Linked DNA regions of Homo sapiens: region 2 is linked to region 1. The links come from fine-mapping of genetic effects on gene expression. A gene starts in region 1. The other region holds a variant in brackets. All regions are shown on one strand. Distances are between the middles of the regions.

Region 1 (4,392 bases):
GCAGTTCAGCTTGGGAAATTGAGCAAGGAAGTTTCCTTCTTCCTAAATTTCCTAATCTAAATAATGCTGAGATGTCATGGTAGGAATAACATGAAGAATAGTTTAATGGATGAGGAATATTTTAAAATCGGAAATGTTTGCTACCAAAAGTCAAGAGCAGACCTTGAAGTTCAGAGGGACAGGGGGTGCAAATCCCATCTGATGGTTTTCAAACTTGGCCCGCCCTAGAGCTGAGGAGGCAGGCCCTTCCTGGACAACTTGGGGAGTCATGGACACAGTGAGGCCCATCCAGCCCATCAGACTGATTGTGGGTGGGGGCTTGGATCTGGCATTCATTTTAACATTAGTGGCTCGGTTGTTGGCTGTCAATAGTAGCAGCGTATTGGGCCCTGAAAAAAATGTAGCTGTGACTGTCATATATTTGAAGTTTTTTGTAACCTCCTAAAAAGGTGTACTTTTTTCATATTGTTTTAATCAGTGTGGCTATAGGAATCAGTGAAGTTTTATATACGAAGAAAACGAGAATGCCAGATCTACCATTTGCTACATAGGGTTTAAAATGAAGCTATGAACAATGCATAATAATGTAATTCAACAAGTTTTTCTCTCTCTGGAGGACTGGAAAATAACCTCAGTGAAAATTATGCAATGATAAAATTCTGTCCCCATCTGATTAATTACTTGTGAATAATGACATCTCTGATTTCTTTCAATTATATTCTAATTGCACACCTTTTGCTCCAGTTGATTGGGCAATGAAGTAATGAACAACTATTACTGAATTTAATTAGCACCATTATTTCTGTGGCCTTTACATCTCTGTTGTGAACATGGAAATTCACACTCCCAGGGCTGGAACTGGAAGAAGCCAGCCTTGAACCTTGAAAAACCTGTTCCTTCCACACTGTGCTGGCTTCCTTCTGCCCAGCCTGGGGAACAAAGACCTGGCGTATTTGCCAGTATTCATGGGAAGGCTTTCCTAATAACAGCATCAATATTCAGAAAGGTTACCTTTTCATAAGGCATTAGCAATTTGCATGTTACATCTATCAAAAGAGATGGGTAAATGAGCTATATGGGAGTCAATTACAATGTCGTTCATAATTTATTCCATGTACAATAAACAGCCGATCAGATTTCATGCGTGTTTACTTTCTGAAAAGATAACTGCTTGTGGCTGATACTAGTTGCAGAATACAAATATGTTTCAGAGTAATGTGTTTATCTCACTTTGACATTTTAAATCTCCAAAGTTCTCTCACTCTCTGTCTTTTTTTTTTTTTTTACAAAGTTGTCTCTGCTTGAAAATTAGAGCTTGCTCTCAAAAATAAAAGATCATTCTTACTGGCCTAACTTGAATCATTCTATTTTAACTCGATGAAGGCACGTCATACATATTCTCCTACAAAACGCAACAGGAAACAAGTAGGAATTTGCTTTTAAAGACAGGTGATTGCAAACATACAGAGCTAAGAATATTTAACTCACAGAAACATGCTGTAGTTTCTAAACATGGATACAAATTACCCAACTCAGTAGTCTTTGGAGCACCAATAAAGTTTGTAAATGCAGACATGTGTCATCGTAAATTAACTTCATCCGATATACTTTCCCCCTCCCCCATATTTCAAAAACTAAAATAAATTCAGAAATGAAGAAGGCTTTTCCAAATCCCTTAGGGAAGTCTACAAACACAAATGATTAATTTATTAGACCAGATAAAACACCTGAACTGTCTGATGAGCAACACGTCCATCTCTCTCTGAGTCAAGCGTGTACCCACTCACCCACCCAGGCTCAGCCATACCTCATATCTGCTGGCTGTCTGCTCAGCCGTCTTCAAGCCTTGACACATATGGATGATACAAACTTTGGCTCTTCTCTGGGAGGGAAACCAGTTACTCTTCACAAAATCCATGACCATCACATGGTTTTTCAACTCTGTACTAAATGTTTTTATCTGGAAAGTCCGATGCACGGCCGTTTCTGTGTAGCGGGCAGCATACCCCTGCGGATGAGTTTTTGTAGGAATTCCAGAGTGCTGCATGAGACTCAGTATCTTGTGACTTTAGCTAGTGAGACTGGCAAACACAATTTTCTTTGTTTAACCCAGGTATTGAGTGCAACAGGAGGGACTTGGGCAGTGCCCCAGCTCGGACCTGTCCCAGTGTTTTCCAACTCCAGAGCTAGTTGTCTCAATATCCCAGCTACATTTGTGAAGGATGTGGATGTGGGAACCTCAGGGGTGACCTTTACGTGCCAAAAAAAAAAAAAAAAAAAAAAAAACTTCTTGTTGTGGTCTGTTTCCAGCCTCACGCCTGAGCTCTCGGGTCACTCAAAGTCTTCTCTGATTTCAAAGAAGTATTTCTCTTTCCACTGCATTGAAGTTTTGAACACAGAATTCACCCAGTTACTGAGAGATTCAATATGTTTGTCAGTCTCTACCCCCTCAAATCCAAATAAATTATTTACAGGGCTCTGTACAAAGGAACTAGGAGGAATAATCGTTGCTTTTTAGAATTCCTGCTTTTACTTGCCAGGACTGAAAGGAACAAGTGCAGGCTGCCTACCAATACAAAGAGCGTCCTCAGCCCTGGAGAAGAAAACATTCAAGTGAAAAAGAGAACTCCCAGCGCAGAAGCAGCAACAGCTGCAAGAGGGCATCGGAAAAACAGCGCATCACGTGGGGGCTGGGGGTGGAGTCCACTCGCCTAGAAGGGGGCTCTGGTCCTGGGTCAACCATGGGAAGTTCCCTCACCACCCTGAGTCTCAGTTTACCAGGAGGAAGACTGGAAGGAAAATACCCCATCTGCCACTCACAGGGTTATTGTTAGGATCTGGTGAGCAAAACAGTGAAACAACAACACAGAATAGAGTCACGTTAGGCATCATTTTGAAAGTACAGTTGCGCGTTCTCTACCCAAATTATTTTGCACAGTGTTCGCTACACATATGATAACGGAGATTAACACAATGCTAATAATTATCAGATTCTAAATTTCAAGTCAATTAGAATTGCAGATCCATGGTATATGCCTCACTTTATTTAATGTTTTGATGCCATTTCTATTAACCTAGTAATTTAGAAGTGAAAATGGCAAGCCTTGGATCAAGGGTGTGTGCCAAGAGGAAGCAGATGACAGCATCGTGGCTGTGCTCCAAGTCCAGACACAGAACTCTTCTCCACAGGTGACTTTCTCTTGGCAGAGACACCCCCTTGAATAATTAACTCACCTGCCCCACATTGAAAGCCATGGGAGAGGCTAAAGGAAGAAGAGCCTCCAGATAACTTTCCTGAAAACAGAGCTGCAGTCCTAGCCCAGAACTGTGAGACTTCCTGCTGTGGGTCGAAGCTTTGCATGTCACACTCAGCAGGGCTAGGACTTGGGGGCTAAAATGCTGAACTTCCACCTTCGGAGCAATGGAAGTATTGAAGATGGGAACTACAATGAAGGAGGAGACAGAAAAGACTTTAGAGATCATTTAGGCCAACATTCTCATTTGAGTGTTAAAGTAGAAGACCTACAGAGACTAAATGCTGGCTCAAGATCACACAGTGAAGTGGAGTTCATGGTTCCTTAAACAGAACACAGCCCGGGTCTGCCTGGGGCTCTCCCAAGGATGTCAAAGAGAGTGTCAACACCCAACTGATGGCATCCATGGCTGACTCAAACCTGACAGTCATGCTGGAAACTCCCAGGGAGCTACACCATGGAGCGCCATCTTGGATTTGGAAGCAATGTGATAAAGAAAGCCATGGGAGACATTTGAGCAATAAAAACATGAAAATTGAACAGGGACACCAAGGAAAGAGGGGATCTGCTTCATGTTTGGGCACAGGGAAGGTCATTCCCTGTGTCCCCAAAAACGCCATTTAAACCAGCTCCCATTTGTGTCTATCTGCTCCTGTCCAGGAGACCCCGCAAGGCAGATAACAAATAATAAAGTCTTTTCTTCCACCACTACACACATTAAAGGACCTTGGACAATGCTGAGGCCAGCAGGACTGGTCATCAGCTACCCCGAGACCAGGACTGGTCATCAGCTACCCCGAGACCAGGACTGGTCATCAGCTACCCCGAGACCAGGACTGGTCATCAGCTACCCCGAGACCAGGACTGGTCATCAGCTACCCCGAGACCAGGACTGGTCATCAGCTACCCCGAGACCAGGACTGGTCATCAGCTACCCCGAGACCAGGACTGGTCATCAGCTACCCCGAGACCAGGACTGGTCATCAGCTACCCCGAGACCAGGACTGGTCATCAGCTACCCCGAGACCAGGACTGGTCATCAGCTACCCCGAGACCAGGACTGGTCATCAGCTACCCCGAGACCAGGACTGGTCATCAGCTACCCCGAGAACAGGACTGGTCATCAGCTACCCCGAGA
Region 2 (4,392 bases), 110 kb before region 1:
TGGTGGAATTGATCGGAAGATGGGTACCAGAGAAGCTGGATTATCTCTGCCATCTCTAAGCAGAAGCCTAATCATTTAAAAAACCAACCAAGAAACCTCACCTTGTTCTTATGTGATAAGTACCAGCCAAGTCAGGATACTTTATATAACAGCTTATTTCAGAGGGTTTCCTTCAGCAAGCAAGTCAGGAATATTTTTTCCTAGTGTTTACTAACAGCTCCTAGTCATGCTCAAAATACTTGCCGGAAATTCTACTGAAATTAGACCCTCAAGAGTTTCAGAGAAAATGCAGCATGACATTATAAATGATAAATAATGTGAAATTAGACACCGCGGAGAACTGCATATTTGGCCGTTTCAAGTTCTAGGCCTCTTTCCTTTCCTCTCATAAGAGCCAGCTTATGTGGAGGTAGGCTGCCTGAAGGTTATACATTTTCAGTTTATAATATCTGCTCTTAACAATAAATATTATATTTCTATACAACTGCTCCATTGTTCCCCCCAACAAATCTCACTAGACAGTTCCCCTTGGCCAGCAAGAATTACTTTCAGAAGGAAATAATCCCCGCAACCTCAGTGATTTGTAAGTGGGTAAGACTCAGCCTAAGATGAAAACACACCAGTGATCCGAGTCTTCATTTTTAATTTCAGCATTCACTTGCAATAGGAGGAAAACCAAATTAATTTTCCACTTTACTTCATTGGCAAACTATTTCTCACTTTGCTGAAGGTTCGAGGCACGGTGATAAATGGTGAATAATAAGCTGCCGACGCGCACGGTGCATGGTTGGAGGCCCTGAGACTTCATCTTAATGGGCAGTCCTGTCCCACCACCAGGAAGCCTCGTCACTGTGTCCAGTCCTGACTCACAATGGCCTTCAGGGCCATTGGAGGGCATAGGTCTCAAACCAGAATGACCCCATGGGCATCATCGAAAATGTAACCCTACTAAGAGAGCCCCAGCACGGTGCTTCTTTAGTGACGGCAGAGGAACCAAAGCCATCCCCATGGAGACGCCTGCTCTTCTGTGCTAGAGGTCAGCAAACGTCTTCTGAAAGGGCCAGAGAGTCAATATCATAGGCTTTGCAGGCCATGCTGTCTCTGTTGCTGCTACTCAACTCTGCACCATGGTGTGAGACCTTCCCTGGATGATATGTCAACCAATGGGCGTGGATGCATTCCAACAGAATTTTATTTCTGGACATTGAAACGTGGATTTTGTATAATTTTTGCATGGCATAAAAGATTATGCTTCTTTTAATCCATTTTAAATGTAGAAAACATGCTTAGCTCAGAGGTCTTACAGAATCAGGGAACCTGATCTTCTAGGACAGTATCTATTCACCCTACAAAGCCTATGTTGGGAGTACATCCCTCTAGCTGTTTGGATGAAACCAAACTCTCACAGGTAATTTAAGACACAAGTACAATGCATCCCTCCACTTCCTGTCACTGGTTTTTACCACCTGCTCGCAAAGAGGTGGTCAGAGTGGACAAACAATTCAGTCACCATGTGCAGCCAAAGGTACCATAACAGCTGGAAAAAAATCAGGAGACTTCTGGAAGAATCTTTAGAAAGTACACCAAGAATATAATTCATAACCTGCCGCTGTTTCCAAAGTGTGGGCCCTCAACCTCTAATTAATCTTAATAGCACTGCTGACTGCTTCTGCTCTTGGTATCATGATGAAAATTCACCACACATTTCATTCAAGCACACGTGAGGCTTGAATACCTTAGAAGAGAGTGATTCCATGGAGATGAAATTGCAAAGCGGCAAGCTGGCTGAAATTCTGCAGCTCACAGAGGAGACTGTGGGTGTGAAATTGTAGGCAATTACATTTTATCACTGCTACACAAGTTTCTGCTGAATTCATTAAAATTTGCTCCCAGAATCGGGTTGGAGGACTGTGGAATTCCGATGACAAAAACGAAAGCAGATTTTCACTCTCCGTGCTGCAGGAGCCACAGAAAGTCCGCAGTGCAATGAGGTTTGGATGTGACTGAGAAATGTCATCTCCTGGAACTGCAGCTGCAAATTAAACAAGGGACTCTCTCACAGAAACAATGACTGCATTCCAAGCAGAGAGAATCAGGGAACAGAGAGGACAGGCAAACAGTGGACAG[T/A]TGTGTGCCTGACACAGAGGGAGCAGGCCCCTTTCCCCGGGCCCCGGGTGGCCTGCTGAGCGCCAGTCAACACCTCCAGACAGGAGCACAGGAAGAGAGGAGAGGTGTAAATTTGGAAGTTAAGTTAGAAAGAACCCCCCACTGAGAGATGAATTAGAGATGCAAAAGCTATGACCAGAAAGGTCTTCCTAATTAGAAAACTGAGGAAAGATCTTGGGCCTGACATGAAGCGTTCATTTTGGCTTCAGCACCTCAGCTGGAGAGTCCTGGGTGCCGCCCTCCCGCTGAAGTGCTGACAGCGTTCTCTCCCCTCTGCCCAAGTGGCGACAGGCTGCCCAGAGGCCACTGCAGGCCCAGCAGCTTCCTGCCGGCGTTAGTTTATCCAGAACCTCTATGAGCATGGCCCAGAGGGTCCCTAATGGAGGGAGAATGCGGCCCTCATCTCACTGCTGCGTGCACGTGCTAGCATCTGCCAACTTCCCACATCCAAACTGATTTGCCTAGCCACCCCCTGCCCTCCCTTACCCCCTGCCCTCCCTTAGACTGTATGGAAGCCAAGTCCAAAGGCTGGGCCTCTCCCTAGAGTGGACATCCACAACCAACACTCTGCCTTCTTCCCTCACCAAGACGAACCTGCTAACCACACAGGCAATGAGACATTCCTCTTAACAGAATCCCTCATTCCTGCAGATAGCATGAGACAGAACAGTCCCAGACAAGCCAGCTGGAAATCCAGTCTCCATTAATTGCTACCTGTGGCACCCTGGGTGGCCCAAGTGACCTTGCTGATATGCAGATTGTCCCACCTGTCAAACGGGCACAGAGCAATCTGCAGACGCTCAATGAGCAGTTCCTCTCCCTTCCCTGGGATAGGACTATTTTGGATTCTGAAGGCACAATCAGTTTTAATGGGCACCAGTTGTGTGGTTACAGACAATTCTCCTATAGCCTGCTGCTAAGAGGCCTATAACCCACCTGACAGTCAGCAATATCCAGGGAGCAGAGCCTGCCAGAGCTCCCCAACCAGGACAGTAAAACCATCAGGCGAGCCCCTTCTTTCACAATTTACCAAATGCACATAACCCCATCTGCCAACCTGAGGCTGCACTCGCACACAGCGCAGAGACCAAGATTCCCAGAGGAAGGGTGTCTGACTGAACTCACTTCTCCCAGCCACCGGCAGTGGCATGCTGCCACCCACTCTCATGGGCTGGGCGGAGGGACCCACGTACATTGCTTTCCATGGCTGTGCAGGTGACATCACACATGCACATGATGTCACATTGATGACTTGAAACCAGCCCCGGAGTATTTACACCACAGAAAGTGGCAAATGCTACAACTCGGGGCAAAATTCCCCACCCGCACTCCAGCTGGTTGTTGTTTAAAGTGACCAGCACATGCTGGGCACGTCCACTCACTGCCTTGGGCCCCAAGAGGGGAGTTCATTGGCACTGCAGTAGCGTGGGGCTAAAGAGGGGCCACTCGTCCACCGCACGCCTGCCACCCCCACCCTCACACCGCATCTGGCCTGTGACAGAATGAGCCTTGAGACCCCAGCTTTTACCCCCAAGATGCAGTGAAATAGATCCTGGGCAGCCCAGGCCAAGCCCTGCCTTAGCTTGATCAGGGTTTAACCAGAGCCATAAATGGCCACATGCAAAGCTCCTGTGGTCACTGGGTGTGCAGCGTGGGAAAGAAGGGCTCTGACCTCTGGAGCCTGTTTTTCTATCTATAACAAAAGGACAATCACAGTCAAATCCTTAGAGGGTTTGTGTGAGGATTCAAGGGGATTATTTGTGTGAAAATGTGTGGACCACCTGGTGGCCGTGAGCCCAATCCACATTGATGGCTGTGATAGAGGTGGCTATGATGAGCAAATATCCTGTCTGCCTGCTCAGCAAAGGGATCTGTGAGCACTAAACATAGGAACACAACCCATGGTATCCTGCCTCCAGCGTTTGCTCATTTGCCCACTGTGAAACTATTTGGTCCTGAGGCCAGAGGAATTGGCGGCGGCAGCTGATGGACATCCTGCACTCATTAACCAACACCGACCGAGGATCAGCCAGTAGCAGCCCTGCCTTCAAGTGGCTCACAGTCCTGTGCAGGGCCAGATGAGTAAAGGCCATGACCACGGAAGCTGAGAACAGGCGTTCTCAATCTCAGCACTGCTGACCCCTGGGGCCAGAGCAGTCTCTGCATGAGGGCTGTCCTGTGCCTTGTGGGAAGTTAGCAGCATCCGTGGCCTCCACCCACTGGATG

Direction of the effects. Positions count from the first base shown, and alleles are read on the strand shown. Sizes are in standard deviations (SD) of each study's normalised expression.
With allele A in place of T in region 2, the expression in sigmoid colon of the gene that starts at base 2,260 in region 1 is lower (small effect, 0.25 SD a copy in GTEx).

What was found.
Region 2: its variant is fine-mapped to the expression of C10orf90 in sigmoid colon (GTEx, PIP 0.98).

Annotation. Positions count from the first base shown.
Region 1 is chr10:126,668,434-126,672,825 of GRCh38, forward strand. It overlaps C10orf90 (chromosome 10 open reading frame 90), which reads right to left and starts at 2,260. Exons shown (of 10, transcript NM_001350921.2): 1 at 1,808-2,260. The coding sequence starts at 2,047. RefSeq lists a silencer at 4,286-4,392.
Region 2 is chr10:126,559,635-126,564,026 of GRCh38, forward strand. All of the region lies in intron 2 of C10orf90 (chromosome 10 open reading frame 90), which reads right to left. Among named protein-coding and RNA genes, the nearest start is that of C10orf90, 110 kb to the right of the region's middle. RefSeq lists an enhancer at 1,727-2,483. The variant T/A (reference allele first, on the strand shown) is at 2,128.